4 linked regions of the Homo sapiens genome follow. The protein of the gene in region 1 interacts with the protein of each later gene in a biochemical or structural test. Each region holds a gene or a part of one and is shown in the gene's direction. Other genes may lie near its edges. The genes, in order: NRIP1, YWHAQ, AHR and CTBP1.

Region 1 (5,316 bases):
CCCAATGTGTCTGTCCCACCCTGATCCTTTTCAATATATATTTCTTTAAACCTTGTGCTACTTAGTAAAAATTGATTACAATTGAGGGAAGTTTGATAGATCCTTTAAAAAAAAGGCAGATTTCCATTTTTTGTATTTTAACTACTTTACTAAATTAATACTCCTCCTTTTACAGAATTAGAAAAGTTAACATTTATCTTTAGGTGGTTTCCTGAAAAGTTGAATATTTAAGAAATTGTTTTTAACAGAAGCAAAATGGCTTTTCTTTGGACAGTTTTCACCATCTCTTGTAAAAGTTAATTCTCACCATTCCTGTGGTACCTGCGAGTGTTATGACCAGGATTCCTTAAACCTGAACTCAGACCACTTGCATTAGAACCATCTGGAGCACTTGTTTTAAAATGCAGATTCATAGGCAGCATCTCAGATCTACAGAACAAGAATCTCTGCTAAGTGGACCTGGAATCTTCCATCTGCATCTTAACATGCTCTCTAGGTGTTTCTTGTGTTTGAGAACCATGACTTATGACTTTCCTCAGAACATGAGACTGTAAAACAAAAACAAAAAACTATGTGATGCCTCTATTTTCCCCAATACAGTCACACATCAGCTCAAAATTTGCAATATTGTAGTTCATATATTACCGTTATGTCTTTGGAAATCGGGTTCAGAACACTTTTTATGACAAAAATTGGGTGGAGGGGATAACTTTCATATCTGGCTCAACATCTCAGGAAAATCTGTGATTATTTGTGTGTTCTAATGAGTAACATCTACTTAGTTAGCCTTAGGGATGGAAAAACAGGGCCACTTACCAAACTCAGGTGATTCCAGGATGGTTTGGAAACTTCTCCTGAATGCATCCTTAACCTTTATTAAAACCATTGTCCTAAGAACAATGCCAACAAAGCTTACAACATTTAGTTTAAACCCAAGAAGGGCACTAAACTCAGATTGACTAAATAAAAAGTACAAAGGGCACATATACGTGACAGAATTGTACACAATCACTCCATTGGATCTTTTACTTTAAAGTAGTGATGAAAAGTACATGTTGATACTGTCTTAGAAGAAATTAATATATTAGTGAAGCCACATGGGGTTTCAGTTGCGAAACAGGTCTGTTTTTATGTTCAGTTTGTACAATCCACAATTCATTCACCAGATATTTTGTTCTTAATTGTGAACCAGGTTAGCAAATGACCTATCAAAAATTATTCTATAATCACTACTAGTTAGGATATTGATTTAAAATTGTTCTACTTGAAGTGGTTTCTAAGATTTTTATATTAAAAATAGGTGTGATTTCCTAATATGATCTAAAACCCTAAATGGTTATTTTTCCTCAGAATGATTTGTAAATAGCTACTGGAAATATTATACAGTAATAGGAGTGGGTATTATGCAACATCATGGAGAAGTGAAGGCATAGGCTTATTCTGACATAAAATTCCACTGGCCAGTTGAATATATTCTATTCCATGTCCATACTATGACAATCTTATTGTCAACACTATATAAATAAGCTTTTAAACAAGTCATTTTTCTTGATCGTTGTGGAAGGTTTGGAGCCTTAGAGGTATGTCAGAAAAAATATGTTGGTATTCTCCCTTGGGTAGGGGGAAATGACCTTTTTACAAGAGAGTGAAATTTAGGTCAGGGAAAAGACCAAGGGCCAGCATTGCTACTTTTGTGTGTGTGTGTGTGGGTTTTGTTTTGTTTTTTTGGTTGGCTGGTTGTTTTCGTTGTTGTTAACAAAGGAATGAGAATATGTAATACTTAAATAAACATGACCACGAAGAATGCTGTTCTGATTTACTAGAGAATGTTCCCAATTTGAATTTAGGGTGATTTTAAAGAACAGTGAGAAAGGGCATACATCCACAGATTCACTTTGTTTATGCATATGTAGATACAAGGATGCACATATACACATTTTCAAGGACTATTTTAGATATCTAGACAATTTCTTCTAATAAAGTCATTTGTGAAAGGGTACTACAGCTTATTGACATCAGTAAGGTAGCATTCATTACCTGTTTATTCTCTGCTGCATCTTACAGAAGAGTAAACTGGTGAGAGTATATATTTTATATATATATATATATATATATATATAATATGTATATATATATATATTGACTTGTTACATGAAGATGTTAAAATCGGTTTTTAAAGGTGATGTAAATAGTGATTTCCTTAATGAAAAATACATATTTTGTATTGTTCTAATGCAACAGAAAAGCCTTTTAATCTCTTTGGTTCCTGTATATTCCATGTATAAGTGTAAATATAATCAGACAGGTTTAAAAGTTGTGCATGTATGTATACAGTTGCAAGTCTGGACAAATGTATAGAATAAACCTTTTATTTAAGTTGTGATTACCTGCTGCATGAAAAGTGCATGGGGGACCCTGTGCATCTGTGCATTTGGCAAAATGTCTTAACAAATCAGATCAGATGTTCATCCTAACATGACAGTATTCCATTTCTGGACATGACGTCTGTGGTTTAAGCTTTGTGAAAGAATGTGCTTTGATTCGAAGGGTCTTAAAGAATTTTTTTAATCGTCAACCACTTTTAAACATAAAGAATTCACACAACTACTTTCATGAATTTTTTAATCCCATTGCAAACATTATTCCAAGAGTATCCCAGTATTAGCAATACTGGAATATAGGCACATTACCATTCATAGTAAGAATTCTGGTGTTTACACAACCAAATTTGATGCGATCTGCTCAGTAATATAATTTGCCATTTTTATTAGAAATTTAATTTCTTCATGTGATGTCATGAAACTGTACATACTGCAGTGTGAATTTTTTTGTTTTGTTTTTTAATCTTTTAGTGTTTACTTCCTGCAGTGAATTTGAATAAATGAGAAAAAATGCATTGTCTCTGGTTTGAAATGACTGTTATTTTGTGGGCTTTCTCTGGTTTTTAGGTTTTCCATAAACGTAAAACACATTGCTATGAATATAACAGTGATCTTCAAGGATGTTTTGCCCTTCTTAGAAAAATAAAGGGGACAAAAAAGAAGGTGGCTGGCAAGTTAGTGCACTAGAAACAGGGTAATTAAGGCATAACTCAAAGTGACAATCAGCCTATGGCCTTTCTCCCATGATTCAGTGTGTAACTAGTTGATCACTGTAAATTTTTAAACTAGAAAATAGTTTGTGCAGTATTCAAAATTAATGTTGACTATATGTATATACATACACACTTCATTTTAGGATAAGACTTTATCAGAAGGCTTTTATCCAGTTTTTAATGGGTGTGGTTTATTTTAAATAAAAGAAAAAGGAGTTTAATAATTTTCCAAAAATGAATGTGTATGTATATACACGTGTTTACATGTTTAAATATATGCTGTATGTGTATAGGTAATGAGTAATTGATAAGCAACATACATACTCAATAAGTATTAGAGACCAGTGGATTCCAAGAAAAAAAAAAAAACTTTGTACCCAGGTAAACTTAACAGCTTAGGAATTTTTATTTTTACAAATAATGATAATTTATGAGAAAGACATTTTCCCAAAGAGGAATTCTGTTTCCTGGGACCCAGATAGGTCTATTGTAATCCATGCAGCTTCTCTCTTAATAGGTTTATAAATGTCTAAAAATGTTCAAGTAATAAAAATACTTCCTGCTGTTCTACATTATTAAAATGTTGAAAAATTGCATCTTGCTATTTGTATAATAACAGAATGAGAGATGCACAACCATGTCTTCTTTTATTTACATGGTGAAAAACCCTGACAAGTGCATCAAGTAGTGAATTGCCCAGGAGGGATTTTTATGAAGAGAAGCACCAGTTAGCTATTCTTGATTATAAAATAGTGCCTGTGACTTTAATATGGAGGGTCTTTAAAAATCAATTCAGATTAAAATCACATACTATATAAGGTTCTATTTCAAGCTTGTTAGTGTGGAAAATCATCAACAAAAGTAATTTTGAAATTTATTTTCCTACCACTGGTATCACTCAACTATGACCTGTTTGGCTGTAGGAAACAGGTTTTAAATGTTCATTATTAAGCATACTGGTAATTTTTTTGTTTATTCCATAAAACTTGTATCTAATACTACCTCACCTTATAAGGGTTGGTAGAGGAAGCTTTTGGCATCATTTAGCATCATTTAATACTCCAATTCTCTATAAGTGGCTGGCACAACAATATCTACAACATTTTTCAGATTCCATCTTCATAAATAAGTTAAAGACTCTCACTCTAAAAGCCAAAATTTATGTACTTGAGTTGGAGGCCGAATAATAGGAAATAGAGTCCCATAAATTCCAGTCCTGGGGAGGTGCTGTTGCACTTTTGATGTCCTCTTATGAGTGTCTAAAAGTACGCATATAAACCTTTTAATCAGTAAACCAAATTTTGAAATAGTATACCTTTGCAGTCAGAAGAGAATTTTTGAGACATTCAAAAGTCTTCTTACAGCCTTTATGTTGACACAAAGTCCTAGACAACCACCTGCTTTCCCTCTGTTGCCTTTACCAAACTTCATTGGTATGTGTTCCAAACCTTAAGAAAAGCTGCAATCCTTTTGGAATATTCATTTTCCTCACTTCAGCTGAGAAACATTCACCTCTGAGATCACATCTGGAAAAGAAAATGACCTAACGTTTTATAGTTGTCATAGCCCACATTTTTGGAAAGCTATGTGAACGATGCCACACAATAGAGCCGCAGTGCAGGTACAGTGCATTGTCTGAGATTGTATTTTCCCTTAGCTAATTGATAAAATAATTCAAGAATAGAACCATGGGGTAATTTTCTTATCATTGGAAAACTACAATTTTCTCTAAAGGCCTAAGGGTTGCCTCTGGCAAACATTAATAGCTGATCTTTCCACAAGCTAGCTTCAAGTCCTTAAAAGACTTTTAGCACCAGGTTGGATGTGCTAGCTAGCCTCATTACATTTTACATCGTACCTGGCCATTTTGCTTCTCTGCCCATGTCTTCTGAGTTTTCTTATGTTCTTGTTTGATTCACAGTGGTGTCTTTGAGTATATAGAAATGCTTAGGTAAACTGGGAGAGATCCTGTTTCTCTCCCCTTCATAATTTTGTAGTCACTTTCAAAAACCAAAGTTGTAATACAAACCTTCGCCACTTCCGCAACTTCTAAATCATGGCTTTCTCCTTTCAATTACCTTACTTTTGGGGGGGAAATGTCCATTAGAAAAGCACTTAGAGTGCTGATAGCCTAATGTGGATAAAAACGGGCTCAATCCAGTCTGTGGGAGAGACTAAAGTATGGGAATAATACCAGTGGGTTCAATGCTGTAACACACACT
Region 2 (9,050 bases), on another chromosome or scaffold:
ACTATCTCACTATTGCCTCCTACCCTCCTCCTTCCACCACAACCCTAAATTCAGTTCATAAAAATAGTTTTTAAATTGAAAGTCATCCATAATACATGAAAATGGTAATAGAGGAAAAAGTTAAAGTAATATAATTTTTTAAGATTCGAGTGTCTCAGTTTATTAAAAAACTATTAAAATTATATTGGTGATGTTGAGCACAATAAATTCTGAAAAACTGATTTGTCTGTTGTTTTTACAGTTAAGAGTGTAGTGATACTGGAGCAGCACTTGTCACAGTTGCCTTTAATTTGGGTGTGGCCCTAATGACCTCTTTTGCCACACTCCTGGCTCAGCAACTTTCCAACTTGAGCCACAATTTTGATACTCATGACTTCTATAATGCATAAACTTCTGAGACTTCGATACATAATTTTATACTAATTTTTTGTGCGTGCGTGTGTGTGTGTGTGTGTGTGTGTTTTAACTTCCTCTGGCCTCAGGCCCTTAAAAAAGTGTGTGTGTGTGTGTGTGTATATATATATATATATATTTTTTTTAATCTATTTAAAATATTTTTTCAATTAAAGGATTTTTAATGTTTTTCTGGTTTTTTTCTTTTAGAGACAGACAGGATCTCTTTTGCTCTGTCTCCCAGGCTGGAATGCAGTGGCACGATCATGGCTCACTGCAGCCTCCACCCCCGGGGTTTAAGCCTTCCTTCTGCCTCAGCCTTCCAAGTAGCTGGGATTACAGGTGTATGCCACCACACCTAATTTTTTTAAAATTCTTTGTAGAGACAGGGTCCCATTATGTTGCCCAGGCTGGTCTCAAACTCCTGGGCTCTCAGGCAATCCTCTTGCCTCTGCCTCTACTTCCCAGAGTGCTTGGATGGTAGGTGTGAGCTGTTGTACGCAGCCTCTGTTTATTTTCTTTAAAAATAACTTATGGGCCAGGCGCAGTGGCTCACGCCTGTAATCCCAGTACTTTGGGAGGCCGAGGTGGGCAGATCACTTGAGGTCAGGAGTTTGAGACCAGCCTGGTCAACATGGTGAAACCCTGTCTCTACTAAAAATACAAAAGTAAGCTGGGCGTGGTGGTGTGCGCCTGTAGTCCCAGCTGCTCGGGAGGCTGAGGCAGGAGAATCATTTGAGAATCACCACTGCACTCTAGCCTGGGCAACAGAGTGAGACTTTGTCTCAAAAAAAAAAAAAAAAAAAAAGACATGGATGCAGTGATTGCATTTTGTTAGACCACTTTTAGTCAGATAAACAAGAAGAAAGTTCTTGGTTAGAATTGTATATTTTTAAATTTATAAACAGCCTTCCTTTTCTTTAGCAGTTATGTGAATTTGACTCAACCTTACTTGTTAATTCTCCAGACTTGCCAACTTGGTATCATGGATGGTATTTTATATAATATTAACTGAGCGTATCTGTGGTTATTTTTCCAAAATGTAAAAAGGATCTTCTCTCTTCCCTGCTTTAAAACGTTCACTAGTTTCACTTTTCCTAGAGCAGTGCTTTTCAAACTGTGTACCTAGGCTGATACTAGCTAACATTTACTGAGTACTTAACATGTGACACTATTCCAGGCTTTGACATCTGTTACTGGTTTTATTCTCAAAACAAACCAATGAAGTAGGTATTAGTATCTTAACATTTTTATGAGAATTTCATTTTGCTTTGTAATATTTAATACAAAAAAGCTTTTTTTGTTTTTGTTTTTGTTTTTTGAGATGGAGTCCACACTGTCACCCGGGCTGCAGTGCAGTAGCATGATCTCGGCTCACTGCAACCTCCACCTCCCAGGTTCAAGCAATTCTCCTGCCTCAGCCTCCTGAGTAGCTGGGATTACAGGTGCCCACCATCACGCTTGGCTAATTTTTTGTATTTTTAGTAGAGACGGGGTTTCATTATGTTGGCCAGGCTGGTCTCGAACTCCTGACCTTGTTATCTGCCCGCCTTGGCATCCTAAAGTGCTGGGATTACAGCCGTGAGCCACCGCGCCCGGCCCTAAAAAGGTTTTTAAATGGATGACCTAGCATCAAGAAAAATGGAATCTAAGAAGATTTCTATCATATTTGTCTTTTGTGACTTTTTATACTCCAAGGCATAGCATACCATGTACTAGAAGTGAAAATTTCTTTGTATGAAATTAGGGACAAAAGACATACTCAAGAACTTTTTTAAAAAAATAATTAGATTTCGTAGACCTAAAATTATTCTTTTAAATTGCTGTGCAAGTTTCTAAACCTCTTACTCTCGATTCCTGTATTTACCTCATTTTAGATGGATACTTGAATGCAAAGGGCACTGAGTAGCACTATTCTCCCTCGTACTTGATGTTTTAAACATTTTGTTTCCCGTCCCTAAAATGAGTGCACATCCCTGTTTTCTGTTTGGTGCATTTCTACTTTTCCTTCTTCATGCCTCAAATACTCTTTCCCTGGGAAGCCTGTCTTAACTGGAGGCCATCTCCAGCAGAGCTACTCCATCTGTGTGCTTCCTTAGCACCGTATTCACATCTTTCTTAGTTCTTGGTATGTAGTTGGTGTACTTACAGACGGTGAGCTTCTTGAGGGCAGGGGCCTGATTTTAAGTCTTCTCTATATCCGTTATAGCACCTAGCAGGTATGAGTAAATGTTGAATGAATGGATGAGTGAACAGATAGGCTGTTTCAAATTACAATGTTTGGTGTAATCTAGAATCTAGCCTTACCATTAGAAACTATAGGCTACATCATTTAAAGCCTCCCAGGGCAACTAGTGGCAACAACCTAACCCCTGCTCTAAGAACATGCTTCAAGTCCAGGCTGGTATGGTATAGTATTACTGTAGTAGTAAATGATTGAAATGCCCGCTAGGCAGAAGTTTTATCATTTAATGATAATGCACAGTAGGCAGAAGTTTAGTGCCTAATGTTCTGTCTTATTTATTTCAGGAATTGTTGGATAAATATTTAATAGCCAATGCAACTAATCCAGAGAGTAAGGTCTTCTATCTGAAAATGAAGGGTGATTACTTCCGGTACCTTGCTGAAGTTGCGTGTGGTGATGATCGAAAACGTAAGTTTATTTGTTATATGGGCAAAAGTAGAATATAAAAAAAAGAAATGGGGATAAATGGGACACTATGACAGTATACGTAGTCTTCAGGCTCTTTGTGACTTAATAATTGAATGTATGTCAAGAAAATTAGTATTACCTTATGTTCTCAAAAATGAAAATTGGATTATAAATTTACATCACATGCTCTTTAAAAAAATTAAGCTCATCTGTGAACTCTGTAATCTCATATGGTATTATTTAAAACAGGATTAATCTTTTATGCTTTTTAGAATTTTGGTTCACCATATTTTTAGCTCCAGAGTTTTTTGTGTAAACTTTATGAGTGATTCTGCATTTCACATGGCCTTTCTATTATGCCTTAAAACTTCAGATCACTGGAAATTACATACAGAACGTGGAAACAGGTTGTTGTGCTTTTGCTGTTTGTCATATTCATTATCGTCTATTTTAAGGGGTCATAACATTGACTGCTAATTACATATAATCAGATTTCTGAGGAGAGGTGAAATGAGTGTGTTATTGCTGGTGTATAACTTGCTCCAACTTCACAGTAAGTTTGAATGACTCATGGTTAGGTTTTACTTGAGAAGGTTGAATATACAGGAACTGTTGATTAATCAAGTAGTGGTCATAAAAATAGATTTTAGTATTAAATACCTTTTTTTTTTAACCTAGACTATCATAGAAAACATGGATATGAGAAAAAGTGACCGAATTGCCTAACTTGATAATAAAAAAGTGAAGTGAATTTATTTGCAGTGAATGTCTCTTGGGATACTGGCAGCTGAATATAAGATAGATCTCATTAAATTTAGTGTATGTGCTTGCTACCAGATTTATCAAGTTCTAGGTATTAGAAGTGTCAGTCCTTATTTTTTCCAGTAAGTTTGTTGTTTTGTTCTTAATTTTGCCCTGTCTACAAAGATATACCCCTACAAATAGTTACTATGATCTGAAAATGAGAGTTTTGCCATCCTAAATATCAGTGTAACTGAATATATAAAGAGAACTTGTACCTGAGAAACTGTTATACCTTGCTATAACAAAATCTATATACTAAACTTACTTATTCTGTTACTGATGTGTAATTTCTGTTGCCATGAAGGTAAGCAGAATTGGACATGATACGGGCACGGAACTGTACATTTAAGTATCAGAAAGCCAAAGAGAAGTATTTGGGAGATTGAGACATAGCTGTAGCTTTAACCTGATTTAACCCTTAGGAGCTCATTGGCACTTTCAGGTCTCACACGTAGTCCTGTGTACATTCTGATAGGCTGCGATTCATAGATAGGCTGTCTTTATAGCCTAATTGCTGAGACACTGGTGCTTCCTAATTTGCCAAGCTGCAAGAACTTCTTATTGCATGTGGGCTGTACCAGTCAGGGATTAGATCAATAAATGTGCCATTTCAGAGGAAAGAAAATGAACATAATTCAGGTCATAAAGGGATAGCTTAATTCTCTTACGTCAGTATCTCTAAAGCTGTAATAGGCCAGTGGCCTCATACAGAAAACTACCCTTTTCAAAACATGGGTATAATCAGATTAGTGTTGGTAATACTGAACATTTTTTGAAGGGGGAGTAACATTTTAATTAGGCTAGTAATCAAACTCTGGTCAGAGCAGATTTTGTCCTATTTATTGAAACTTTTATATTGCCTTTCAAATAATACCACTTGATACTAAGAATCAGTATTTCTGCAAATCAGAAAAATAGAGATTTTGGTGTTGATGATCTTTGTAAAGTTTACATTATTTAGGGAAAGGGTATTCCAGTCAAATTATTATTATTATTATTAATTTTGAATGGAGTTTTGCTCTTGTTGCCCAGGTTGAAGTGCAATGGCGCGATCTTGGCTCACCGTAAGCTCCGCCTCCCGGGTTCAAGTGAGGCTTGTGCCTAGCCTCCCAAGTAGCTGGGATTACAGGCATGCATCACCACTCCCATCTAATTTTTGTATTATTAGTAGAGACGGGGTTTCTCCATGTTGGTAAGGCTGGTCTTGTACCTCCAACCTCAGGTGATCTGCCTGCCTCAGCCTCCCAAAGTGTTAGGATTACAGGCGTGAGCCACTGTAAATTATTCCAGTCAAATTATTTTTAATTGCTGCATTTCCAAGTAATAGAATTAAAAGACATAAAATAAGAAAATAGTTTTAGCCTAGGTATGGAAAAAAGTCTGATTTACTATAATATCTCATGTTTTTTTTCCATTAAGCTGTTTATATGTAAGCAACATTCTAAACTGGTTTTTTGTTTTGTTTGTTTGTTTGAGACAAACTGTCACTGAGGTTGGGAGTGCAGCAGCATGATCTTGGCTCACTGCAGCTTCAACCTCCTGGGCTCAAGGGGTCCTCCCACCTCAGCCTCCCAAGTAGCTAGAGCTACAGGCACGCACTACCATGCCTAGCTATTTTTTATTATTATTATTTTTTGTAGAGACAGGGATAAGATCTCCCTGTGTTGCCCAGGCTGGTCTTGAACTCTTCAGGTTCAAGTGATCCCCCTGCCTCACCTTCCCAAAGTGTTGGGATTAGAGGCATGAGCCACTGCACCTGGCCATAAACAAGTTCTTAAATACCCAGTACACAATATTGTTTTTGTTTGTTTGTTTTTGACACAGAGTATCGTTCTGTTGCCCAAGCTGGAGTGCAGTGGTGTGATGTCGGCTCACTGCAACCTCAGCCTCCCAGGTTCAAGCGATTCTCATGCCTCAGCCTCCTGAGTAGCTGGGATTACAGATGCCCGCCATCACGCCTGGCTAATTTTTGTATTTTTAGTAGAGATGGGGTTTCGCCATGTTGGCTAGACTGGTCTTGAACTCCTGATCTCAAGTGATCCACCCACCTCGGCCTCCCAAAGTGCTGGGATTATAGGCGTGAGCCACCGCGCCTGGCCACGATAATGTTTTTTGTTAGCTACCATGATTTTAAAAGACCCATACAGAGAAAAAATCTTGGTTCTACCAAGAGCTAGTAGCATATGTTCAAGTTGTTAATGTACTGTGTACTGGATGGTTATTTTTAATATTGCACTTCTTATTTTTCGCTCTTCACAGAAACGATAGATAATTCCCAAGGAGCTTACCAAGAGGCATTTGATATAAGCAAGAAAGAGATGCAACCCACACACCCAATCCGCCTGGGGCTTGCTCTTAACTTTTCTGTATTTTACTATGAGATTCTTAATAACCCAGAGCTTGCCTGCACGCTGGCTAAAACGGTAAGATGTGTGTCCAGGAAATACGTACTTTAGCTACAGTTATTTGAGATACCAGGTATGTTAATTTATAGGTATTTTACTTGGATACCCAGGGATGATTTCTACTATATTTATTTTGAAATCTCCTCTTTTTCTTCCCATCATGATTACCTACTCCTACCCCTGACACCTTACTCTACCCTATGATTATAAGCAGTGATGTGCCTACAGAGCATACTGAGCAGAGTAATCAAAGAAGGATAAATGATGTTAAGAAGGAAACATAAAAGATTAGAAAGTCATGCCTGCCAGGTTTGGTTACTAGAATAGCTGTGCATCAGCCACATTCCTCAAAGTGGCTCAAAACGAGAGAATAAAGAGGACCCTGTAGAGATAAGTACTACTTAACTGGAAAGAAGTCTGTTAAGCATTGCTGCTGTTCCGTTGTCCTGTGAAAGAACCAAGACATGCTTGTTTACTAAGTGTATAGTTTTATAAAATTCCAGTCATACTCATAAGTTCTTAAACTGGGAGTGTGAGAGAATGGTTCTGTTGAGTTTGTTGATGGTAGAACATAAGGTGGGTGTTCACTTATTTTGTAAAAATGGTTTGTAATTGTAGAATAACCAGTTTTCGTCAATGCACATATTTTACCATGGATATTAATATTTATCAGGCTTTTGATGAGGCCATTGCTGAACTTGATACACTGAATGAAGACTCATACAAAGACAGCACCCTCATCATGCAGTTGCTTAGAGACAACCTAACAGTGAGTTGTTTACTCTTTTAATTTTATTTTCTTTTCAGAAACAAAAGTATTTATATTTTATTTTGGACTTCGTGTCTTTTAGGGAAGATACATACGAGCTGAAAGTATGAGATACGTGTTAGTATTTTATGGGACGAACATTATTTTGTAGGCAGGTTTTCAAGTTGAATAGGCATTTTATCAGACCTTCCTGAGAAGGTTCTAACATGATAGGAACTCAATATTAATATTACTATTTCATTGGGATGAAGATGTTGATAAATTATGTTAATAAAGAGCTTATCAAGTTTCAATATTTTGGGGCAAATCAGCTATAGCCAGTTAGGGACTATCTAAATATCTACGCTTTCTTAAAATCACAGGAAGTACCTTGTTCTAATAAAAGTTTACTTTGTGAATTGTGCATGATGTTCTACAAGCATTTAGGGAGTAAACCTATACCTAAACTTACTCCTTCTCTGCTTCTAGGCAAAAGCTTCTGTTTTGTTTGTCTTTTTCTCCCTGCTTCTTAGATAGGCAATTGATAAAGGAAGTAATCAAGAAAAAGTACAGCTTAAGCTTTACTTTAACATTCTTTTGTAGGTTCAAGTAAATTTGATAGGTAAAATCTTAGACTTCACAGAAGGAAAAAGAAGGGAACAAATCTTTTAATATAGATCTCGTCCTCCCAGCCCCCTAGTTTGGTGCTTTATCATTTACTAGATAGGATTTTTTAAATATTAGCACCATGTCTATTCAATTTTGCTGAATAGGGTAATTATGAATCCACTGAAAGGGGAACGAAGACCCTGCATTTCTAGCCATGAGAAGTGCCTGTGGTTGTGAGGGGACAATGGAAGATGATCAGCAAATAGTTCTACAGAGGAAGAGCAAATTAGGCAGTTATACCTCTTCCCAGATGTATACCTTGGAGCTAACTATCTTTTAATCGGTTTTGTTTTGTTATCTCTATTATGGAGACAGGTCTTTGGGGGATTTTGTTTTGTTTGTTTTTATTTAGTATCTTCATAATAATCTAAGGATTATGTAAGATTCTGGCTTTTCTGAAATTAACACTAATGTCTTGCTGTTGGTCTAATAAAGTGCAATTATAGTCAATAAATACTGACTTCTCTTCTTCACTTCATCTTCCTATCCTAAAATCAGAGAGATCCTGGAAGATCCACTTAGTTTTAACATTCTGTCTAATTCAAGAACCCTGTCTATACATGCACACATTGCTTCCCTGTAGCTTCCATCACCCACTTCTATTTAATTCTTGGAGAAACACAAAGTAAGTCTGCTTTTCCTATAGTTTAGCCCTTCACACACTTGAAAATTGTTAACCATGATTGTGGCTTTTTCCTCCCTGTGAAAATGTTTTGCTTTATTAGTCTGTAATAATAATGCAGTAGTGCTTTCAAGAAGAGCATTGGGCTGCTGGGAATAGAGACTATCACTTTGCTTATTCTGAAAGTAGAGTGCCTTTTTAAAAAAGTTTCTCTTTTTTTTTTTTTTTTTTGAGAAAGGATCTCACCCTGTTGCCTAGGCTGGAGTGCAGTGTCATAATCATGGATCACTCCAGCCTCAACCTCCTGGATTCAAGCAGTCCTCCTGCCTCAGCCTCCTGAGTAGTTAGGACTGTAGGCACACACCACCCCGTACCTGGCCAATTTTGTTTTTGAAATTTTTTGTAGACGTGGGATCTTGCTATGTTGTCCAGGCTGTTGAACTCCTGGCCTCATGCGATCTTCTCATCTTGGCCTCCCTACGTGCTGAGATTACAGGCGTGAGCCACTGTGCCTGGCCAAATGCTTTTTAAATAAAAAGGAAGCTATAAAACCATGCTCCAGTGGTATATGTATGTATGTATGTATGTCATTTTGTAAGTGCATAGTGAAAGGTCTGCAAGGATGTACTTTGGGAAGGTGATGGTCTTTGGGGTTTTGAGAGAGAACTTCAGTCTTAGTCAAGATCTCCATTGTTTGAGGAATTTACTACTCTTGTAGTTAATTTTGATATAACAATACTACTTAGTGTAATTGCC
Region 3 (9,050 bases), on another chromosome or scaffold:
TATACTTACTTAGTTTTTAATATACTTGTATTAATTTCTTATAATATAACAAAAGTATTTTTTCCATTCACCCACATTTTGTTAGCATAGATGTTTATCAGATCTCTGCTGAGCACCGTATATTGCTTCTAATCATACAGATGCCTTAAATATTACCAGCTTGCTCTGTAAGAATAGGCTAGTGCTGGCATTTTCATTATCAAGTGAAAGTGTTTATATAAATTATTTTTACCTGAATGAAAAATTGTTAACTTTATAATGCAGTTAATCAAAGTTTATTTTAGAAATGAAGTCATTAAACCTAGTATTAAATTTGAGTTTTAAAATTAAACTACCAGTTTGTGGCCTAATGAGCCCCAAAACATGCCAACATTGGGGAAAATAGATCTTGTTTTGAGCTGAAAATGCTATCCAGACCTACTTAACTTTGACCTCTTAAATGAGAGCCATTTTATTTTATTTACAGATAAAATATGCTGTAGCATTATTATAGGACTGTTTAAAAAGACAGCCAATTAAATATAAATTTTATGGAATATAAGTATTCCATAAAATTTTGGAGTAAAGTAGGTGACAATTGTAACCTGAAGCTCTTTCAATCTTGAGTTGAATTTATTAAGAAAAATCAACCCCCCCTAGTGGCGGCTCTCACATTGAAAATTATCTTTATTAGTAGGAAATACATTTTAAATGTGTTCAATTTAATCCCACTGAAGTATCTCCAACATAGTAGACTCTCAATAAATATTTCCTTTCTTTTTGGAGTAATGAAGGTTGGGAAATTAAAGGCTCTGAAGCAACTTTACGTCCAATTCATGTTCCTACCTTCAAGAAGAAAATATCAAAGATAACTTTCATTATAGAATCTACTATAACTTTGCTTAGACTGTTGCCCCATACTTAGTGACCCTACTCAGAAAAAGAGAACAAATCCTGTGTTTATTTTATTCTCTTTGGAAATGAAAGTGTTTATTTATTTTGTCTCATGAAGATAGTCAAAAAGGCCATTATATAATTAAATAGAATGTTTTTCCCTAGTGATAATTTTGTATATATTTTTGTATTTTTAAGGTTTTAATCATAAAGAAAAAGTTGTAATGGATTTCAGCTTACCTGTACATAGAAAGTTAGCACTGAATGTTGGCAAATAATAGGTGTTGAGAAAAGGGGATCTACACTTTAAAATGATACCAGCTGTAGTGGTGATTAAGCCATTATGAAGTGTCAGAACTGGAAGTCACTTCTGAGCCTTAGCTGATCTTTCTTTAAAATGCATACTGATAAAAACTTTTACTTTTATTAACATATTAATAATATAAAAGCATTGTCTTGCTATTCTTTTTAAATGTCATGAATTTCATATATGTAATACTGAATTGTATTACTTACATAATACTCATTAAATGTTTTCTATAAATTTATGGTGCCATTTTTAAAATAGCATCTAAAATAAAAGAATGGGTCTTTTCATTTACACAATTATTTCTCCATCATTTTTCTTTCCAATAGCTTTAGATAGCATATACATAGTAGTTATGGACACTTGCTTATTAGAACTATGAAATGAAGTAAGTGAAAGTGTTTAGTTATAGGTAACATTAAATGGCAAAAAGAGGAAACAGGTATAAATTGAAAGCACTGGATCTAAACTAAAAAATGAGGTCTAGTTTCTTCACTGTTACAGATCTGGGCAAGTTTCTTGACCAATAAAGCACGACAGTCAGCACCTGTACTGCTACTCTCACAACTAAAACAGAACAAAAAAAAAATATATATATATATATAAACTGTGAAGACTGCTAAAGATACAAATGAAACAGAAACGTAAATTCTATTCTTTTAGCTTACATTATCACAGAACAATCAATTCGCCCGTGAAACAGTAAGAGGCAGTATACGATTATGTTCTCAATTACGGCTACGGCTGAAATGTGCTACTTCACTGGTGAATAAATTTACATAGTACGTGCTTACTCATGTATTTAATTAAGACAGTTACTTAGAAATAAATACCATACAAATCTTTTACAACAGTACCTTTCTACTTTTATGCTTCTTTTAAAATTGATATTTTGCTAGTGGCTTAATATGACAAAAGATGACTGTTTATTAGCACTTATTCTGATACAAGCTTGCCCAGTTCTTTACATCATTTTCTTCATTTTTATAATAGTACTAAAGAAAGGTAGTATTATTTAAGTTTATAGATAGGGAACTGAGATTCAAATTCAGAGTTGCTCAGATAATGAGAAAGAGTTTGGATATTGGATCCCAGGTCTTTTTGCTTCAAAGCTTGTGTTCTTACTGACTTGTGTTCGTACTGTCCAGGTGAACAGATTCAGTGATGCATACAGTACAGCCATATCCTAGGGATTTTCACTGTTTCTTCTCAGATAGTGTTATGGCTGAAATAAATTATTTGTCATTTCCCATACATAATTTGTACTTGCTCATCCCCATACTTGTGTTTTTACGTCCTTTCCTCTTAGAGTCTTTTCTCCTGTCTTATTGATTTGCTACCCACCTCCCTTCCTCTTTAAAACATTGTTTTTAAAGGCTGCATAATACTCTGTTGTACTAATATTCTATAATTTTTTTAACTGTTTTTCTTTTGGGAGGAAATTTTATTCCCAACCATTTAATACTTTAATATTTCAGAGAATACCCTTGGGACGTGTAAATTTTAATGCAAATTTATTTTTTTAGGAAAAAATTCCTGTAAGGGAATTTTGGGATAGAAAAGTATGTGTTGTTTTAAGGTTGAACCAAATCGTACACTCCAAGAGATAGTATCAAATTAAGAAAAATTTACTAATTACATTCCATCATCAATCTGGGGATGTGACTATATCTTTGCATTTTTGCTTAAAAAATATTATTGTCAATTTCATAGGCAAAAGTGTGGTTGGTAATTAAAGTTATATGTTGGGATCATGGTTATGTATAGGAGAAGCACTTGTATTTGCAGATTTTCTACTTAGGGTGTCCTTTACGTATTCATTTGTTTTGTCTTACATTTTTCAGTCATCTTTTAGTTTGTTCTTTTTACTTCTTTCTATTGAAATATTGTTTTAAAATGTATTCCTATTAAATAATACTGGCAGATTTTAAAAGTCAATTATATATGTGGCACATCTTAAGTATAGCATGTGAGGCCTTATCTTTTGATGTCTTACTGTGGTAGTTAGGGATTTTAGTGCTGTCTTGTCTCACTTTAACCTTTTTCACCTTCCTGCATCCTCCCAATATATTTTATCACAATTTTGGATTATATACACATTAGTGTTGTATTATTTTTGACTGTATATTGTTTACTGTTTAGCTAAGTAATATACTGTGATTATATTTGCCTTCCTGTTCTATGCTATTATTGATTTCTTTTCTACCATCTTCCTGTTTATTAGCATCTGGGTTTAGCTGTCACTTAGGTTCATCGGAGACAGAGTTTGTGTTTCTGGCTCCTGCTTTTCTTGTTTTGGTGTGGTTTTCTGGAAGAGAAGGGTAGTTGCAGAAAGCTAGATATTCTGCCGTCACAGAAACAGAAGTGTCTTGCCTGTATTTAAGACCCGATTTAGATGCCACATCTCCATGAACTCTTTTGCAGCACCTGTGTTACTGAGCAATATATTATGCTTGATTTTGCCATGTTATAAAATATATTTCCTCCTAGTAGGAAAAAGAATGTCTTTAAAGATAGGACTATTATTTGTCTTTGAAACTACCAGAGCTTCCCAGTACAGTACCATGCACTTAGTACATATTTGAGATGTACTAATTTAACAATTAACTACCACTTAAAATTTTTTTGGTAATGTTTTAGTGATTCTGGTAAGGCAGATACATTTTATGCGGGTTCGAGGGGGAATAAAAATGTGTGTTTGCGTAGAAGAAGGGGGAGGGGAAACAATGAGTTTTCCAGGATTATGGAACTAGTAGTGGTTTCTAGGCCATATTTCATTTTCCTGATCTTCCCTGCTAATGTCTTGTGCTAGAAACTATGCTGTTTATATCTCATCATCTCTCCTCAGGTATAGCAAACAAAAGGGAAAGGAAAGAACTCATCACAATTATAGGGCAGCAGCAGGAGGGTGGCAGAAGACTTCTGACTCATTAAAAGTGGCTTCCAGCCAGAATTCTCAGAAGTTTTTGTAGATGTTTTTGACTCATATAGGGAAATAAAATATCCAGCTGTGTTCAGCCTGACAATGAAGTTGGGGTCTATTTGTGCTATGTGTCACCTCCATTACATTAAGCACATAGTTTATGATTGTAAATATTTGAAATTTATATTCAGAGATAAATACGGATGCACTGAAGCTGGGGGAAGGAAATGAAGAATGAATGGGGTTAAGAGTTGGGCTTTATTGGGTGTAGGTAGTATGGTAGGGGGATTTTATTGAGGAATACTTCAGATTTCCTAGCTGTTAGATGGAGAGTAGCACCATAGTGCTGAGAAGCGGGTGCCCAACTCCAGGGGAATGTTGAATGGAAGGGCACAGGGTCAGGTACAGGGACTGGAAATAAAGATAAACAAGTTATGGGTAAGTAGACCAACGCAGTAAGAGTAGATTAAATCACCCCGAGGAAAAATCCGATAGAGCAAACTCAGTACTGTGAGAGGCAATCTCTTGTTAAAAAACGTCACTTTGATCTCATAGGATTACTGAAACCATATCTTTGCATGTCATTTTGAGGTTTTATAATGAATATTATATAAAACAGTTATATTTATGAGTAAACTTGGTTAATTTTTTCAGCTTTGCTTCAAACACTGGCTACAAATGATGAACCTCATAGACTTTTTTGATGGAGATGTTAAAAAGGCTTTCAAGATAGCATTCAGACTGGCATTGGGCATACTGTTGGGCCTGTTACCACCAGCAGTTAAAGCTTGCAGGGCTTCTAAACAGAAGCATGGCATGCAGTCAGCTGGAGTCTTGATTTCATAACAATTTTACAGATTGGGACAAGATTTTTGAGGTAAAGGTTTCAAAAAATAATAAGTTACTCCTTTGCCTGACCAACATCATACGGTCTATTTCAGGAGATGTTTGAACTCCAGAGCTCCCAAATCCAATCTTACAGGGATGTTTATTTATATTTCAAACAGGCTTTTCCTTAAATAATGGTTAGCAGTGTCCTTTCTTAAAGATTCGAAGACAATACAAAAGTAAAAATATTAGCGTAATCCAAGTCAAGTGCAGTTAATGTAAGATTACTCTATTTTTAATTGTTCTGTATATCTTCAAGATGTATGGATAGATATTAAATATTTTAACAAAATCTGTACATTTCTCACAAAATCAGTGAAAAAGTGGGTCAAATGCATTACCTTTGTTAGCTTTAACAATCTGACATTTTAAAAGCTTCAAATCCAGTACATCTGAATTGTTAAGTTCTGAGGGTACTTCTTAGCCCTGACCTTAATTCCTCTGTGTATTTGACTTTCTTCCTCTGTGTATTTGACTTTCTTCTATGACCTCCAAAATATTCTACCCTGGTTTTTTTCCGTCTATCATTTCTTCTCTGTGTCTATGCCTCTTCCATAGCCCTATACCTAAATGTTGGTATTACTGAGGTCTATCCTCAAGCCACTTTTTTCCTTTTCTGGTACAGCTCTCATTAGGAAATGTAGTTGTTCTTCTGAGCTACAAATCGCAGAACCATTTGCAACCTCTCCTCACTCAATGGTTTCCTCTTCCTTACTTCCTATAGTGAGTTAGTTTAGTTCAGTGAACATTTGAGTCTGGCTTAAATCTCTCTTCAAGCCAGTCCTTTCTTAACCTCACTGTCACTGCCTTTGGTCAGGTTGTGATCATTCCTTTTCTTGGCACTTTTGGTCAGCAAACATTAATTGAGAATCCACTCTATTATGCTGGGCATTAAGGATACAAAAATGATTTAAGCTTACATAGAAATAAGGGTGTTAGGCAAACAAGTATAAGCAATTATGTTACTTGACAATGGAAATTTGCTCTCATGTTAAATATTTTGTAAGACACATAGTAATGCATTAGAAATGTAGACAATTTTGCATTATGAAAAGCAAGCCTCAGAATCTAGTGTGAGGCTGAATATTGCAAAGAGCCAGCACAAGACAGGCAGCAGTACCACATGGAGGGATACCTTTATGTTACTATTAGTTCTCCCTGTGTCATAGCATGTTGCCTTGTTTCAGCGTTTGTGTCACTCTCTTCTCTCCAGTGTTTCATAATCATTACTGGAAAGCCACCAAGAGTGCAGGACTGGATTGTGTACACACTTTCTATTTCTGTGAAGTTGTTTGTATGGAATATTCCTTAATGGAATCATTATATTAGACATTTGTATAAGAAGTCAAATGGGGCAGAGTTGCTAATCCATTGTGAGGTAGGTCAGGGAGGACTTCATGAAAGTGATCTACTTGAGCGGGGACTTGAAACCAATGGGACATAACAAGGAGGTTGTATGAAAGCACTAAACCACATGTTGTAACTGTAAGTAATTTCTTAGCTCTGGGGTAGAATAGACAAAAGCGGCTTCAATAGAAGAAATGAAGCCAGAGGGGTAAATGAAGCTAGAAAGATCATGAAGGATTTTGTGTGCTAAGCTAAGGAACATGGACAGTTCAGAGCTACTGAAGGAGTTTAATCAGAGGAGTGACACAGTCAGATTTATGTTTTAGAAAGAAGTTCCTGGCATCCCGGAATCCTAACTTCAGCGAACCCTGCCCTGCTTTCTGTATACTCTATCACCAGAGTCAGCTTGGTGAAACACAGGCTGATCTTGTAAATCTCAGCTCAACACTTAAGAACAGATGCCTAAGTCCGATTTCTATCGTTACTTTGCTGTCTCCTCTATCTTGAACATTTTTGCATCAGACACCCACATAGCTCACTTCATTTTACTCATGTCTGTCCTGAAACATCACATCAGAGAGACCTTCCTAGGCTGTCCAAACCAGCATCACGTCTGTCACCCCTTAGTTTCTTACCTTGCTTTATTTTTCTTCTTAGCACTCACCGCCCTAAAAGTTATATGTTTATTTGTTTATTTCTCCATCCTCCACCTAGGATGTAAGCTCCATGACAACAGGAGCTTTTGTATATTTTGTTTACCTGTAAGTGTTCTGTGCTGGGCACTTGATAGGTGTTCAGCATTTGTTGAAAGAATGTGGCCCCAACCATCCTTCTTCTTTTCTCTCTTTCACCCTGTGCCTCTCCCTTCATGTGGGGGAATTCTTACAGTTCACTAATCCTTAGTTATGCCTCTTCATGAAATCCTGTCCCTCACTCAAGATCCATCTCAGATACCACCTTTTCTGTAAAATCTTTTTTCAAGCAGTTGCTGCTTCTGCTTAGCTCCCATAACACTTTTTGAATAGTTAGGAGAAAAGTGTTTACCTGGGCTGTACAGGATGTGATGGATATAAATAAATACTTGTCAGCAAGTTATTAATTAACCAGTAGAGAATTACACAATGAGGTAGACAAGCATTATAGGTAAAGTTTGAAATTCAGTTGGTTAAGTGGAGAAGTGAAGTAATTAGGTGTGACTTGAAATTTGTTTATAAATGCAATATGATTAGGGGAAAATAGCTAGGGGAACCATCACCAATTTCTATTATATACACAGTTGTACAGACAACCTGGAGAAGGTATCTGTTGATACATACATAAACACACACACACACACACACACACACACACATCATTTTACCGATGTATTACCTTTTTTGTAGAAGTATTTACTTTTCATCTTCTTTCTGCCTAAAGTATTACTTCTCCACATACATCACTGAAAAGAAATTATCTAGAAATGTTTTGATTGGGTCATATTAATAGCACTATGCCCAGGCCAATTTCTACTTTACAAAAGCTGATATAATTCCATTTGAATTGTCAAAAATGTCTTTGTTGTAAGAAAACGCTAGATAATTACTCTTCTGGCTAACAGGAAGGTATAGAGGTATAAGGTATAAATTACTTTAGTTTCCCAGTTCAGCGTGGGTATCTGATGATTTTTAAATTCACTTTAAGTGATTAATGTCTGCTGTGAAATCCTGGCTGGGGTCTTTGTGTGAAGTTATTCAACTTTTCTTTTCTGAACTCATGTTCCTCTTTGACCCATAAGTGTCTTTATTCTCAGGTGAAAATCATGCTAAATTGTTTAGGGTTCCGTTGAACTTTCTAATTGAGACACAAGCTACGAAAGCTAATAATTAAGTATAATTATTGTCTACATGTAAAAGCAAAAGTTGCTGGTAATCACCATTAACCTCTAATATTTGCCAACAAGAAATGTAAATAGCAAAAGTCAAATTTATTCTTCTTTTAATATTTGAGGACCACATTAGATGGCTGGAGGACCATCTGCAGGTGTCAGAGGGGCTTTGGGACATTATCTCTAATGAGTTGAAAGTAAATAAATACAGAAAGCTGGTGATATGAAGATAAATACTTTATTTAGGGTTGTCCTTGTTTATTGACAACGTCAATGATGCTGAGATGCTTCCTGTGGAAGATAGCAAAGGAAGTATGATTTTCATATAATTTATCACAAATTTCTCTTTTTAATTTTCCACCAAACAATGGCTAATGCATTTGAGAGGGGAAAAAAATCCCAGTAGATCTGTTAATTGGGAATCACTGTGCTACAAATGCTTGAAGTATAAGCAAACATTTTCCTATGATGAGTTCATAAGCTTTTTAATGAAATATTCGGAAGAATTTAACCCATTCCCTGTTTTTCTTAAGATGTGAAAGGAAGATTTTAGAAAGACTTACGTAAACTTTAAGTAGACTTTAAAAGTTTGTTGTGTTAGAGAAATATTTGAGGAGATGTTATAATGCAATAGAAATTTTTGCTTTATATTTTTTAAAGGATTTTTTATGGTATTTTGTTTGTTTTTCAGAGTAAAGCCAATCCCAGCTGAAGGAATCAAGTCAAATCCTTCCAAGCGGCATAGAGACCGACTTAATACAGAGTTGGACCGTTTGGCTAGCCTGCTGCCTTTCCCACAAGATGTTATTAATAAGTTGGACAAACTTTCAGTTCTTAGGCTCAGCGTC
Region 4 (9,050 bases), on another chromosome or scaffold:
TGACGAGGGACCCGGTTCCCACTCACCCAGCACCCAGGAGTCCCCCCAGGCGGTTCTGACGCAGCCGAGCGGTCTGCAGTGATCCCGTGTGTCCATGCCTTCCTCATCAGAAGTGAAATCCAAGGATACTGAGAGCGGATGTCTATCCACTCACTCAGAAACAGCAACATAAACCTTTCTGCTCATGAGAAGTCATCACCACCACACACAGCGGGGAGGGAGGCCACGTGCAGAGGGAGGCCATGTACAGTGTCACTGGGCGGCCTGTCTATGGTGCTCGTGGGCAGCTCCCGTCCAGAGGGAATGAAGGAACAGGCGAACCAGGACGCGGTTTTGACCGTGCAGACCTCACGTTTGGGATCTGGTTTCCTATCTTGAAGGAAAGTGGGTGGAATGGCCAGTGGCTCCTCCGAGGACGCCAGGGCGCGAGGACCTCACGGGAGGGGCATGGGCCCAGCCGTACTGGGAGCCCTCGGCTTTGGGGTGGTCAGTGGAGACCCATGCCCCGTCCCCTGCAGGCGTGTGCTGCAGGCCCACTGCACCCCTGGGCTGTCCACCAGAGCATTTCTTTTCTCTGCCATGGGTTCCAGGAGGCACTTCCCTGCTTCCTGGATACTGGCAGCTCGGTGGCCTCTGCTCACCTGCAGGCGGATGGGGCAGCGGATGGGGCGGGAGACTGGGCCGAGCGTGCTTGTGGCCGCGGCCACTGGAGAGCCTGCTGGGTCACTCTGCTCCTTGGTTCTGTCGTGCGCCTCCCCTCCTGCTGGCCGAACGGTCCTGGGTACTGCTTGGTCTCCTGTGGCCGGTCTTTGGAGGAGGAGGGGAGGGACCGGCTGGGCCCTGGCCCCAGCTCCGCCTCTGCCCAGCTGCCGTGGGGCTGACAGTGGCCCCACCTGGTGCTCCCTGCCTGGCACGGGGCGGTCGGGCGGTGCCTGGAAGCTGCCATGCTTCTGTGACGCCTCAGAGCCCTTATTTCTCCAGTTGGCCCCGATGAGGCTTAGTTGCGTCATACGCGAAAGGAATGGGTGTTAATGAGCTTTAATCATCTGGTTCTGGGAAGGTCAGGGGCACAGAGTGGACTTTAACAGGTTTTAACCCTTTTCTTCCTTTGTTCTGTTTCTTTTCTCTTCACATCTATAATTGGAAGTAATGCCAGGCAGAGGGTTGGGGGCGTCCTACGTGAAACACTGGTGACCCCATCAGGGATTCCGGGCAGCCACGCGGTAGCCCAGGCAGGAAAGGGACAACCATGTTCCCAAAGTCCCGTGCTGTCATCTTGTGTCCTCCAGTGTCCTGGGTCCCTCCTGTCCCCCTGCCTCATGGAGCTGCCCTGGGGTCTCGGACGGTCTGGGAGGGTCTCGGGGGGTCTCAGAGGGTCTTGGAGGGCCTAGGAGGGTCGGGAGGTGTCTCGGTGGGTCTGGAAATGTCTTGGGGAGTCTCAGAGGGTCTGGGAGGTTCTCAGAGGGTCTGGAGATTTCTTGGGGGGTCTCGGAGGGTCTTGGAGGGTGTGAGAGGGTCTCAGAGGGTCTGGGAGGATCTCGGAGGGGCCTTGGAGGGTCTCGGAGGGGACTTGGAGGGTCTCGGAGGTCCTGTGCCCAAGGGAGATGGTAGTGGGTGTCCACAGTCTGTGTCCACTTGAGTCAGCGAGCTGAGGCACACACGAGTTGTCTTTCACGTGGATTTTTAATTTACTTTTTACAAATATCACAACATATAGACCAGAAAACCCCCGGCGGTCGGCCCTCGTTGGCCCGTGCACAGTGGGTGGCGTGGAGTGGGTTGTAGCCACGGGGCCGCAGTGGTGCAAGGCTGAGCACTTGCCTCTGTCTTGCAGGCGTCCGACCTCCGATCATGAACGGGCCCCTGCACCCGCGGCCCCTGGTGGCATTGCTGGATGGCCGGGACTGCACAGTGGAGATGCCCATCCTGAAGGACGTGGCCACTGTGGCCTTCTGCGACGCGCAGTCCACGCAGGAGATCCATGAGAAGGTACCACCACGTGGTCGCCTGGGGCTGGCAGAACCGCACGTTGGGGGGAGTTGGAGGGACGGGAGCACGGCAGGCCCGGGCCACAGCAGGTCTGGGTGCCACTGGGGCAGGAGCAGCCTCTGTCCCAGTCGTCCCGCGCCGTCAGGAGGTGGACACGGGGTTTTCCCTGGACACCATCAGGAGGTGGACATCGGGTTTGCCCTGAGCCCCATCAGGAGGTGGACACGGGGTTTTCCCTGTGCCCCATCAGGAGGTGGACACCACGTTTGTCCTGAGCCCCATCAGGAGGTGGACATTCGGTTTGCCCTGTGCCCCATCAGGAGGTGGACACGGGGTTTTCCCTGAGCCCCATCAGGAGGTGGACACTCGTTTTGCCCTGTGCCCCATCAGGAGGTGGACACGGGGTTTGTCCTGAGCCCCATCAGGAGGTGGACACGGGGTTTTCCCTGAGCCCCATCAGGAGGTGGACACGGGGTTTGTCCTGAGCCCCATCAGGAGGTGGACACGGGGTTTGTCCTGAGCCCCATCAGGAGGTGGACACGGGGTTTGTCCTGAGCCCCATCAGGAGGTGAACACCGGGTTTTCCCTGAGCCCCATCAGGAGGTGGACACAGGGTTTGTCCTGAGCCCCATCAGGAGGTGGACACGGGGTTTGTCCTAAGCCCCATCAGGAGGTGGACACGGGGTTTTCCCTGCACACCATCAGGAGGTGAACACCGGGTTTTCACTGAGCTCCATCAGGAGGTGGACACGGGGTTTGTCCTGAGCCCCATCAGGAGGTGGACACGGGGTTTTCCCTGAGCCCCATCAGGAGGTGGACATGGGGTTTTCCCTGAGCCCCATCAGGAGGTGGACACTCGGTTTGTCCTGAGCCCCATCAGGAGGTGGACACCGGGTTTTCCCTGAGCCCCATGAGGAGGTGGACACTCGGTTTGTCCTGAGCCCCATCAGGAGGTGGACACTCGGTTTGCCCTGTGCCCCATCAGGAGGTGGACACTCGGTTTATCCTGAGCCCCATCAGGAGGTGGACACTCGGTTTGCCCTGTGCCCCATCAGGAGGTGGACACTCGGTTTCTCCTGAGCCTCATCAGGAGGTGGACACGGGGTTTTCCCTGAGCCCCACACTCGGTTTGTCCTGAGCGCCATCAGGAGGTGGACACTGGGTTTGCCCTGTGCCCCATCAGGAGATGGACGCTCGGTTTCTCCTGAGCCCCATCAGGAGGTGGACACGGGGTTTGCCCTGAGCCCCATCAGGAGGTGGACACCGGGTTTGCCCTGAGCCCCATCAGGAGGTGGACATTCGGTTTGCCCTGAGCCCCATCAGGAGGTGGACACCGGGTTTGTCCTGAGCCCCATCAGGAGGTGGACATTCGGTTTGCCCTGAGCCCCATCAGGAGGTGGACACCGGGTTTGTCCTGAGCCCCATCAGGAGGTGGACACTTGGTTTGCCCTGTGCCCCATCAGGAGGTGGACACTTGGTTTGCCCTGTGCCCCATCAGGAGGTGGACACCGGGTTTGCCCTGAGCCCCATCAGGAGGTGGACACCGGGTTTGCCCTGAGCCCCATCAGGAGGTGGACACGGGGTTTGTCCTGAGCCCCATCAGGAGGTGGACACTCGGTTTGTCCTGAGCCCCATCAGGAGGTGGACACCGGGTTTGCCCTGTGGCTTCTTGATTCATTTTCAGTTTTTTCCCAGAGAGCAGGTCCTCGGGATGCCAGCTTTTGTGGCGGGGGTGGAGTAAGGTGCTTCCCCCGGCCCCAGTTGCGCGGCGGTCTTCACACGGGCGGTCTCGGCATTGCCCGCGGCCTGGCTTTGGTCCAGCAGTGAGCAGCCTTTGGGCAGCTTTCCTGATTCTTGTTTGCTCAGGAGACCCACAGGCTCCTCCGTGATGAGAACTAGGTTGGTCTGGCTTCTACTTGTAGCCAGGGATCAGTGATTCAGAGCAGCTTTTCCCTGAAGACAGACGAAGAAGCTGGGCCCCCAGGAGCTCACAGGATAGGGCCAGGCCCAGGCTGCAGCCTGGAGAGGCCTATAACCTGCAGGAACGGGCGGGCCTTGCCAACTCTGGCCTGGGGTGTTGGCTGTTCTGGAAGAAGTAGCTGAGAGGCTGAATTTGGCTTTGGTGGCATCACTGGCCTGCTGGGTGTGGGGCCCTGCCGGGATATCCATGGCCTGAAAGGTGACATCTGGAGTGAGGGTGACCTGGACTCTGACGCGCCACACGATCGGCACCCAGCCTGCTGATGTCCAGGAAACCTTGAATCTGGATTTTTGGGGACCCCGCACTGCCGGCCCCAGGTGCCTGGCAAAAGAAGTAAGACGGCCCCTTTAGAGGAAGACAGCGTCAGCCGAGGCCTCGGGTCATTTCTACAAATCACCATCTGGTGCGGGGTCCATCACATGCAAACAGAGGTAACCAGGCAGTCAAGGAGATGCGCAAAACGCAGAAGCCAGGGAAGCAGTGCCACCCGCAGGAGCTCCCCGTGCTGCCCACGAGCCGATCACCCCAGCCCAGCCCCCAGGAGGCTGGGCCAGACACCGACGAAGAGCTGATGACTCTGGAACGGGGCGTAGCAGCGTTAGGGGAGAAAATGAGATGCGGATCTGAGAAAACGGCGAAGCTGATCGGTGGAACTGAGGGGCGGGTTTACCAGCTGACCAGGCGGCAGCGGACAGGAGGGAAGGAGAGAACGCGGGAGAGGGCGAGATGAGGAAGGGTCGCTCTTGCAGAAACTTCAGAACAGGAGAGGGAAGGGGTTGGAAGTGATGATGACAGCAAAACCCTTTCCAAAATGGACGGAAGAAAATCTGATGTTAAAAATGCGCGTGGTCTGCCGGGAGCGTCTGCTGGGGCGTTCGCTCTGGAAGATTCTTCATGGTTTCTCACACGGGTAGATGCGTGCTTGTAATGCAGCCCAGTGGCCACACTCCTTTATCCCGGAGACTCGGAATGCGCGTCCACACACAGACCTGCACGTCATGCTCCCTAGCAGCTTAACTCACCATAGCCCAAACCAGAAGGACGCCCCCCACCGGCTGTCCTTCAGTGGGTGAGTGGCCAGGCAAATGCTGGCCACCTCCCTCGGTGTCCTCCTCAGCAACAGGCATGAACGCTGGGTCCCTGCCACACCCTGGGTGATCTCGGCAGCATGATGGCGAGTGAAGAAGCTGGTTTCAAGGGGTGCACACTGTATGATCTCTTCATCCCCAGGTGATAGGATTAGCGTGACGGAAACAGTGGCCCGGGGTGTAGGTGGGGGGGCCGCCGGCAGGCCGGTGTCTGGAATCGGCACATGGGCACGTTGGCACGTCACGTGGGCATGTCCACACGCATGCAAGGGGCTGTGGGTGAACTGCCCGTGGTGCACACCTGAGGGAGTTGTGTGGCACCAGCTCGGTTTGGACAGTGCCCTTTGTTAGGTACGGTTTTCTCATTGGGAAGCTGGATTTGTATTAAAGATGCACACGTAAGAATAAAAAAGAGGCTCGTAGAAAACTTTTGGTGTCGTAAACAATACTCAAACAGTTTTGCCAACAAATTGGAAAGCTAAGGCAAAACAGATGTTTTTCTAAAATTGCAGTAATCCCAAACTGCCTTGACAGGTTCATATAAAATGCAGATCAGTGGTTGGGGTGGGGCCGGCGTGGGCCCTGGCATGAGACAGACTTCCTGCTCCCCACCCAGGCTGCACAGCCCAGGGCAGAGAAAGGACAACATAAATACACAGAAAACTGCCCCAGGGGATGCAGCTGGATTCTTGGAAGAGACGAGAGTGTTGGGAACCGTCCTGGCATCCTGGAGGGGCCTGAAGCAGCCCCTAACCAGAAGCAGAGCCGGCGCCACAGAAAGGAGCCCCCAAGAACTAGGAGAGCTTGAAATTAAAAACATGAGTGAAAATCTCATAAAAACAGGAAGCTCAAAGACACAGGGACATTGCAGAAGCCAGAGAGGTGAAGAGAAGCCGTGACCTCCCGGGGCTGTGTGTGGAGTCTGCAGGGGCTGCCTGGATGCCGAGTCCGCGTTTCGCAGTGTGTGGTCCTGTGGGAGGACTTGGCTGCCCACGCTTTCTTGCCACTAGGGGTGGCCAAAGGATTGAGCTCCAGAACAGAGGGGAGCAGGGCCTCTCCCTGCCGTCCCCTCCTCGTCCCTGCTGGCTGGAACCCGGGGTAGCCACCTTGGACTGTGAGGGGAGCCACGTGCTGGGAACCGTGGAGCAACAAGGCAGGAGGCAGGGACCCTCGTGGCTGTGGAGAGGGCAGCGGGGCCGCAGGCTCCCTGTCTCCAGGCTTTGGCGTGGGAGGAAACTGAACACCTGCTTTGTGTGCCACTGTTAGTCAGGAATTCTGCCTCCTGGGGCAGAAACTTCCCGCATAGCTGGTTGGAGGTCGCCGCCGTCTGAGTGCCGTGGAGGGAGAGAACGTGATACCGTCAGTGCGGTCACAGGAGGAGCGGGAAGAATGTCGGGGCCTGGGAGGCGCCCCAGTGTTCAGGTTCAGGACTGGGATTTTACTGATACCACGGGTGGGGGATGTCACCCACCGGGACACAAGACTCAGCCCAGCCCCACTCGCCTGCTTTGGAATTTCCACAGGAGAAGGGTTTTCAGCCCAGCACTGCACATCTGATCAAACTGCTGAGCAAGAAAAAGGAAGCCCTGGAGCCTGGAGGCTGCGTCCGGTGTGGGCTGCGGGGCCTGGAGCGGCAGGGCGGCTCCGGGAGGGCACAGGACGCAGTGGCCTGCGAGGACCTGCAGCCAGCTGGACAGTTGCACTCCTGCAAGACAAGCATCTCCACGCCTTGGGGGTGGGGAGGCCACCAGAAAGCTCCGCCAGACAGAGGTGCTGGGGCTGTGCAGGAAACGAAGTGATTAGAAATCCCGGAAAAACACACAAGCAGGCGTTGTCATGGTGACTGGGAAAAACACACAAGCTGGCGTTGTCATGGTAATGGAGTGTAGGACAGGCCTGGAGCCCCTCGGTCTCTTGCTGGCGGCTGGCACAGAGACGGGCTGCCGTGGGCTCTGACCTTAATACCGGGTCACAGTCGCTTCTAGGACCAAGAGGACAGAGACCCCATCACCGTATGCAGGGGCCTGTTTCCAGGCAGACTGCCCAGTGCCCAGCTGAGCCTCGGGTGCAGTGCGACCCCCGCAGGGCATGTCCAGACCCCAGGACCCCCTCTCAGGTCTAGAAGATCCAGTTGGGCAGTGTTGGTACCACCAAGAGTAGACAGGACAGAGGATCAGAGACAATCCCACCCAGCAGGACCCAAGGACTCAGGCAGTGGCTTTTCAGGTGTGTGGGCCGAGGACTGGGGAGTCGGTGAATTCTGGGGCCCCTGGGGTGGCCGTTCAGGAACTGCAGCAGCTCCCCCCACCACAGATGCTCGCTGCCTACTGAAGCGGCCACGTGTTTGAATGAAGAGCAGTTAGAGGAACGCTTGCAAGAGAATGTGTTTATTACCTGAGGTTATGACAATACAGAACATACAATGTTTTCTGTGGAAAATGTGATACTACAGAGGAAAAGGTCACTTTAATTAAATGGCAATTAGAAGTAACAGCATTGCAAGGTGGGGTGCAGCAGCTCACGCTTATAATCCCAGCACTTTAGGAGGCTGAGGCGGGTGGATCACTTGAGGTCAGGAGTTCAAGACCAGCCTGGGCAACATGGTGAAACCTCGTCTCTACTAAAAATATAGAAATTAGCCACGCGTGGTGGTGCGCGCCTGTAGTCCAAGATACTCAGGAGGCTGAGGCAGGAGAACCTCTTGACCCTAAGAGGCAGAGGTTGCAGTGAGCCAAGATCGTGTCACTGCACTCCAGCCTGGGCAACAGAGCAAGACTCTGTCTCAAAAAGGAAAAAAAGAAAGAATGACATAGCAAAATAAATTTAAAAAATAAAAACGGGAGAGGTAGGGGTTGGGTATTTTCAATTTGTGTGCCAGCCTAAGGGTGAATGTCTGATAACACTCAGAGCTGGTGCAGGGGCTGTGCCTGTCATCCCAGCGTATCCAGAGGCCAAGGCCAGAGGATCGCTTCAGCCTAGGAGGTCAAGGCTGCAGCGAGTCATGATTACACCACTGCAGTCCAGCGAGGTCCTGTCTGTAAAATAAGTAAATGAAAAAGTTTATATATTCAAAGACTCCTCCCAATCAGTAGAAACAGAAAAATCCCGACAGAAAATGGATGAGGGCGGTGGCGTTTGGTACAGACAGAGCGGTGTATGAGAACCGGGGTGCGCCTCCTGGGTTCTCACAGGTGCAGCAGGCACCGCCGGTAACCCCTGGCCTGGCCTGCGCTGAGCCCTGCACCAGCCGTGCTGAGGGAGCCTGGGCCTGGCCCTTCATGTGGGATAGAAACGGCCGTGCCGGTCTCGATGGTGCTTTGGCAGTTTCTCTGGAAATCTGAAACCTGCGGTCTTCAGCCCAGCCCCACCCTGGGCCTGCATGTGGCTGCGTGTCGTAGAGAAACATCTGCCCTGATGGTGACCTGATGTGAGCAGCAGTTTCACAGAGTAAGCCACCCCTGTGCACGAGGTCTGGAAAGGTAAGTGCGACGTCGAGTCCTGAGCACAGAAGCAGGTGGCAGAACTGCATGGCAGGAGGTGGGCTTGGCGGGCCCCTTCCTGACCCCCAAGAGCCAGCTGCCACCAGGAGCGTCCTGGGGTCTGTTTCCAGCCCGGTGGCAGCCGAGCTTCCTGGGCACCCAGCTTTCCCCAGCCTGCTCTGAGCACTGGAGTTGAGGGCACTGAGCAGAGTGGGGCTGAGCCCCTGGCGGTGGAGGGGACACATCAGTGGGTGTTGGCTTGAGGTGGTTTCTGGGAGGCTGCTGGGCCCCGATCTAAAGGGACACACCTGGCTGCACCCACCTCCTGCAGACTTTCTCCGTGGGAGACCAATGCAACAGGCGGGGTGGAGCAGCCACGTGGCAGCCACGAGGGGGAAAGGAAGGTAGACCCTGAGGCTGAGCCGCTGTGGCACCCTGGCCTGTGGACCTGTGGATGACGTGGCCGCCACGTGGTAAAGCGCACATGCTAGCAGCTGTGGCCCTGCAGCTGAG

What was found.
Region 2: the proteins of NRIP1 (region 1) and YWHAQ form a complex in vitro, tested with the Homo sapiens proteins (one study listed by BioGRID).
Region 3: the proteins of NRIP1 (region 1) and AHR form a complex in vitro, tested with the Homo sapiens proteins (2 studies listed by BioGRID).
Region 4: the proteins of NRIP1 (region 1) and CTBP1 form a complex in vitro, tested with the Homo sapiens proteins (2 studies listed by BioGRID and IntAct).

Annotation. Positions count from the first base shown.
Region 1 is NC_000021.9:14,958,820-14,964,135, reverse strand, and holds the end of NRIP1 (nuclear receptor-interacting protein 1), read left to right. Parts: 3' UTR 1-2,901; downstream 2,902-5,316. UniProt on the Homo sapiens protein: Modulates transcriptional activation by steroid receptors such as NR3C1, NR3C2 and ESR1. Also modulates transcriptional repression by nuclear hormone receptors.
Region 2 is NC_000002.12:9,585,388-9,594,437, reverse strand, and holds part of YWHAQ (14-3-3 protein theta), read left to right. Parts: intron 1-2,922; coding exon 2,923-3,046; intron 3,047-6,109; coding exon 6,110-6,273; intron 6,274-6,928; coding exon 6,929-7,024; intron 7,025-9,050. UniProt on the Homo sapiens protein: Adapter protein implicated in the regulation of a large spectrum of both general and specialized signaling pathways. Binds to a large number of partners, usually by recognition of a phosphoserine or phosphothreonine motif.
Region 3 is NC_000007.14:17,301,043-17,310,092, forward strand, and holds part of AHR (aryl hydrocarbon receptor), read left to right. Parts: intron 1-8,893; coding exon 8,894-9,050. UniProt on the Homo sapiens protein: Ligand-activated transcription factor that enables cells to adapt to changing conditions by sensing compounds from the environment, diet, microbiome and cellular metabolism, and which plays important roles in development, immunity and cancer.
Region 4 is NC_000004.12:1,231,122-1,240,171, reverse strand, and holds part of CTBP1 (C-terminal-binding protein 1), read left to right. Parts: intron 1-1,834; coding exon 1,835-1,989; intron 1,990-1,994; exon of another isoform or gene 1,995-9,050. UniProt on the Homo sapiens protein: Corepressor targeting diverse transcription regulators such as GLIS2 or BCL6. Has dehydrogenase activity. Involved in controlling the equilibrium between tubular and stacked structures in the Golgi complex.